Linked DNA regions of Homo sapiens. The protein of the gene in region 2 purifies or fractionates together with the protein of the main gene of each other region. This does not show direct contact. Each region holds a gene or a part of one and is shown on either strand. Other genes may lie near its edges.

Region 1 (3,656 bases), on a different chromosome or scaffold from region 2:
GTAATTGCATTGTGGTGATGTAAGAAAATGTCCTTGTCCTTAGGAAATAATCACTGATAAAGGGGCATGATATTATCATCACTTATTTAGATGGTTTAGGAAAAAAGATAAATAAAACCAAAAAAAACCCACAAGGATGGCCAGAGTCTGATACTCATATCTATGGTTCTTCTCTAATAAGATGACACCTATCAATTTGCCAATTACATAAAGCATTCATTTCTTGTAGCGGTTGAGCCTCTATTTACTCACTTAATAGGGATAAGCATACTCTATAACAACATCAACTACTGTTAATCTGTAAAAACTACTCAACACTGACTGTGGTCTAAATGAGAGTTAACTTGTATTCTTCTCTCTCCAACAGCTGGGCATCTGAGGGAAATGTTCACAGTTTATTGAGAATGATTTCCAAGAAACCCTATGAAGATGAAGGTTTAGGAGTGGAAACATTTGACAACCAAGGAGTCATCACAATCCTACTAGGCATCTGATATGAAGTTAACGTATCAATCAGTATGTATTTTCTCAGATGTGCTTTCTATGAGAAAAATTTAGTCAGAAATAAGTCTTAAGAACAGAATTTTAAGAACTCTTAACTCCAGAAGTCATAAGAATTTGTTGAGCTGGCCAGCGTGCTGGCTCACGCCTGTAATCCCAGCACTTTGGGAGGCTGAGGTGGGCAGATCACCTGAGGTCGGGAGTTTGAGACCAGCCTGGCCAACATGGAGAAACTCCCTCTCTACTAAAAATACAAAATTAGCCAGGCATGGTGGCACATGCCTGTAATCCCAGCTACTTGGGAGGCTGAGGTAGGAGAATCGCTTGAACCCGGGACACAGAGGTTGCAGTGAGCCGAGATGGTGCCATTGCACTCCAGCATGAGCAACAAGAAAAACAAAAAATAATTTATTGAGCTACCATATGGTTACAGATTATTTTTACCAGAGTCTCTACTATTCTCCTCAGATTCCTCCTCTTCATCATCATCGGAATATTTTTTCTTTGGGGTCTTTCTTCGCAAACGCCTGCTCTGCCTCATTGGCCGAGAGGGGTGTCGCCTCAGTCTACGGCTACAAAAGTCAGTGTCACTGTCATCATTAGATGGCGGATCTTCTTCACTTTCATCTGGGTTTTCATCAGACACAACAAACTCATCTTGAGATCTGTCCAAGAGAAATCAGATAAAATACAATGGTATTTAGAAGAGTGAACCCATTTTTAAGAGTTCTGAGTTCAAATTCTGGTGAGCCCAGTGAATCATTAAGTATAGTGCAACATATCTGGATAATTGTATCAAATGCCCTATTTATAAAATGGGGAAAATGTTTTGCCACCTATCCTCTTAGGAGGGGTTGTAAAGATGAATTAATGTTGATTTCTGTACTGCTTTGACCTCTTGGGATGTCCCCCATGTTAAATTCGACATATTCAAAAGTGAATTCATTATTTCCCAATCTACTTCTCTCTTCTGTTCCCTGGCCTGGTATTTGGCACCATCACTCATCCGGTAACTCCAACCAGAAACGTGGTATTTATCCTAACTTTCCCCTTTTCATTTCTCATATCCAATAAATTAATAATTTCTCTAGAGTCTACCTCTTAAAAGATAATCTCTCAAACCTGATCTCTTCTGTTTTCAGCTTTTCATACTCACCTTAACTACAAAAGCAACTCCACAAATAGTTTCTCTAATATCTGGTCTCATTTCCCCTCAATCTATCCTCCAAATGAATGCCAGGATGAATCTTTCTGAAGCATAAATCTCATATTAATTTAGTGTTTAAAACCCTTCACTGGTTTTGTATAATTTTCAGGATAAAGTCAAAACACTTATGCATGACAAATAAAACACTCCCTAATCTGGCTCTTTTTATCACTTGACCACATCTCCAGTAGGGCACTCTCTACTTCATCCCCTTATTCCTGCTATCCAGAGCCAACAGGAGTTTCCCAAACATTCTATGACATTTTACGGCTTGCTGTCTTGGACATGTGACTTCTATGCTTAGAATACCTTTTTCTTATCCTGCTTTTAGTCTCATACTTGTTGATTCCAAATACTCATTCTTCAAATTTCAGATCAAGCTTTACTTCTACTTTAAGGTTTACTCTTTGGATTAAGCCAACTTTCCTCTGTAGCCTAATTTATCTTTCCCTGTATTTTAGTAGCAGTTATGCAGAATGACTTTTTTTTTTTTTTGTGGTTTATATACTTGTTTCCTCTTCTAATAATCTGAAAGGAGAAACTCTGCAGTATTGTTTCAATTCCAACTCTGCAAAGAAGCCTTTCTTGATCTTCTATACTGGATTACCAGTCCCAAGTCCAACTTCTATGAGTCATGAGAGGATAATATCTTATTTATTTTTCACATAGGACTGGAAACCCCTCATGGACCTGGCAGAAGGTGGCACAGAGGTACAGAGAAAGCTCTCAACAAATGAAAGTTTAATTGTAGTTAGTAAAATTTAAATACAATTTTGAATGTTAAACAACCATAAATCTATTTTCTGTTCTAAACTTTAAAAATGGGCCAAAATTAGTATTCTTGAATCTGCTTTAAATATCCTGAAAATAAACAGAGGTTGTCTATGTACATGAAGAAGAAAACCCTCATCACAGCATGGGCAAGCCTCTCTGCTAGCCCAGTCCTGTTCCTGCTGGTATCTAGGGATCGGGGCCTAGTAGGAGACCACACACCCATCACTGATCTTGAATTCATCCTCGCTCTCTTCTTCATCCAGGTTGCTATCACTGTCCAGATCATTTAATCGCCGGCGTTTCTTCCTTCGAGCAGCAGCTGCCCTCTGGGGTCGTTTATTTTCTTTTCTTTCTTCATCCAAAATAGTAGAGATGTCTTTCCCACGATGACCTGTGATGGTGGAGATATCTTTTCCTCGGCCAACTCCTGAATTTGGGGGAGGGAAGTTCGGGGAGAGAAAAATATGTGTTTATTAAAAGCTTCCCTTTAATTTCTAGAGACAGTCCTTATTCATGCTTAGCAGCTCTTCATTTCTTTATTTTCTTCCAACAAATATGCAGTTTTCTTATGACTTCAGCTGACAGAGGTCTCAGAGTTTTAGCATTCGTTTACCCTACTGAAGAGAAGTTTACTATGTAGGGAACCTCGTTTTTTAAATTTTTATATAATTCACACACCGCAATATTCACCCTCTTAAAGTGTACAATTCAGACATTTTTAGTATAGTCACAAAGTTGTGCAACCATCACCACTACCTAACTCCAGAACATTTTCATCACCCAAAAAAGAAACCTCATACCTATGAGCAGTCACTCAAGAATCTCTTCTTGAAAGCTGTCTTTTGGACAAGGCTTTAGAAAGAGGCCAATAGAGTTTTTAAAAACAGTGTTTGCAGGACAGAAAAAGTGAGAATTCAGCAGCAAAAATGTAAATAAAACATACATCTCTGGAAAAGCCTTAAACAATCTACTTATTAATCTTTTCCAGAGTTTTCATAATAACTAAGTAGAAACCAGAATGTTCCATATTGGAGCATTGGCTAATAGTGCTTTAATTAAATTACCTTCAAGTTCTTCTATTTTAATGCCACTTACTAAAGACTATGAAATTAAGAAACCAATTTTTAATAGGTTAACTTAAAAATTTTTGGTTTAAATTATTTTGGTTCTGATT
Region 2 (2,547 bases):
GTTAGGTTTGTTAACTCTTGATTTGCTTTGAGTAATTTTTTTCTTCAAAAGCCACATTCCAAGAAGATGCCTTAAGTATCAATGAGCTATATTTGAAGTACATCAACTCTGTTTAAAGCTGTCCAACAATAAGGACACAAGCAGTAAAATATCTGAAGCATGAAACATGTAATGTTGATGACTAATGTTCTAGATCATCAGGAATAAGATTAACGAAGAGCAAAGTAAATCTAAAACAAGGAAAGGGAAGATACATTTATTAAAAATAAAAATAGTACACAATCTCTGATAACAAAAAAAGCATTTAGGGTCAAAAGACATCCAACATACATTGTAACAATGCACACATATTAATTAAAAAAAAGACCCATGAAATAATTTTTAAAAAACTTTCAAAAGGAAAAAACTATTTTGGCTTCCTTCTGCTGAAATTCGCCTATAAACATACCACGCCAGCTAGACCAGCATTCCCTTTCACGTGGTCTGTACAACATAGTACTGCACAATGTGAGCAATTACTTTGATGAACACATTGTTTTTGAATAAAATTGTTGGTTCTGTATGGATGATCCAGACATAAATCCATGGTTCCATTTCACAAAAATATTCATAGGCTGGAAGAGCAGTGACAACCATTTTCCAAAATCTTCAGTTTTAACAAAAGGCGCAGAATAAACTACTAAATCTAGATGTTTTCACATTATTTTGCATGAGTGTCAAATACTATGTAAAAATTAACGTAAAATCTTAAGTTGGCCAAAACTAGTGTCTCTAAAGATCAAAATTCTTCACTCTTTTAGCATGGCTGATAAATCTTTTCTGCCTTTGTCACTAATGCTTGTCAAACCAAAGAACTTTGCAAAAGAATATGCACTGCTGAAGGAAGACAGTACCAAAAATACCATATTGAACTTCGGTCTTAAGACACACACAGTTCCTGTTGGATACTGGACTGTGAAAGTTTATTATCTTCAGTCTTTTCATGTCCTGGAGCATGGCAAGTAGTCTTCCGCTTAAATAACCGAAGACTCAATCGAAGTAATTCATTGTCTACCATTGGAGCACTCGTGTAAGCTTGTTTTATGGTGCCCTATTTGAAGAAAACAAAAACAAACTTTAAAAAAGATGTACATTATTAGTAGGAAAGATGGGCAGGTTAACCTCTACCCAAAATATCAAAGTTATAAGAGTATTTCATTTTGGATATTAAATTAGCTTTATTGGATTTCAAAGCAAAATTAGAAAATGTGTTTGGGCTCAATGAATCTTTGAAAAGAAACTTTTAGAGGGCACCTAGTTTAACCTCTTGCTTAAAGTAGGAATCCTCTCAACAATTTCTGACAGGTAATCAACCGGTTTTTACTTTATCATTTCCAATGACAAAACAAACAAAAAACACACTGCACGTTCTGTTGTTGAATGGCACTATTTCTTCCATGTGATGGAATAAAAGCTCTTCTATGGTGCTACACTGTAATTCAATCTTACCTTTACTTGACAATCCTTCAGTTCTATGAAGGTAAGTGCCATGAGTTCCTTCCTCACATAGTTTTTCCTTCTGTAAGCCAAACATTCTATTCTATACTCCTTACCAATCTTTCAATGTCCCATAAAAAGTGAGCTCGAAAACTGAATAAATCCTTTAGAAGACAGCTAATCATGCAGTATGCTGAAGAACTACTACCTCCCTTATACTAAAATATGTATCTATATTATTGTGACTTAAAGTTACATTAGCATTTTTTGGAAAGTTATTGTCATAGAGAAGGGACCAGGGAATGTTACAAAATACAAAACAAAGAAAAGTGCATACTGAAATCAGGGAGCAAAGGAGAATGACTGTAGTGATTCTGTCAAAAGTAATCTTGAACCAGACTTTTAAGTGAGGAAAACTTGATTATACAGTCAAGACATGTTTTAAAAATCTCCTGTTCCTCGTATTTGTTTCCATTTTAATCTTTGGAGATAAACTCATTCTTCTGTTTTTTAAAAATTGAATCCCCCCTACCCACTACCCTAAATCTGAGTATTTTTCTTTAATGAAGTAATCTTTTCTTTAGCAATGTTATATAGTCAAAGATAATTCTGTTTTCCTAACTGCCCCAAGTAAAAAGCTAGTGAAGTTAACCATTTTATCATTACTCTAAACTTTCTAAGCAAAGAATCACACCAACTCTCTTTTGTCATCCAGGTTGAGTAGTCCTCAACTGAAATGCTTTGGACCAGAAATGTTTCAGATTTGGAAATTTTTTTGGATTCTGGAATATTTGCATTACATTTACTTACCCAGTTGAGCATCCCTATCTAAGAATCCAAAATCTGAAATTCTCCAAAGAGCATTTCCTTTGAGGGTCATGTCGATGCTCAAAAGCTTCGGATTAGGAATACTCAGTCTGTACTACCTATACCCATCCACTCACCACCCCAAATAAAAATCCCAGTTTTTTTTTTTTTTTTTTTTTTTTTGAGATGGAGTCTTGCTTTGTCGCCCAGGCTGGAGTGCAGTGGCACGATCTCTGCTCACTGCAAGCTCCGCCTCCTGGTTTA

The links. Proteins that work in one complex are often made in the same cells at the same time.
Region 1: the proteins of ZC3H13 (region 2) and RSF1 fractionate together in Homo sapiens (co-fractionation; one large-scale study listed by BioGRID). This does not show direct contact.

The regions. Positions count from the first base shown.
Region 1 is NC_000011.10:77,674,091-77,677,746, forward strand, and holds part of RSF1 (remodeling and spacing factor 1), read right to left. Parts: intron 2,910-3,656; coding exon 2,702-2,909; intron 1,167-2,701; coding exon 946-1,166; intron 1-945. UniProt on the Homo sapiens protein: Regulatory subunit of the ATP-dependent RSF-1 and RSF-5 ISWI chromatin-remodeling complexes, which form ordered nucleosome arrays on chromatin and facilitate access to DNA during DNA-templated processes such as DNA replication, transcription, and repair.
Region 2 is NC_000013.11:45,956,208-45,958,754, forward strand, and holds part of ZC3H13 (zinc finger CCCH domain-containing protein 13), read right to left. Parts: intron 1,091-2,547; coding exon 920-1,090; 3' UTR 1-919. UniProt on the Homo sapiens protein: Associated component of the WMM complex, a complex that mediates N6-methyladenosine (m6A) methylation of RNAs, a modification that plays a role in the efficiency of mRNA splicing and RNA processing.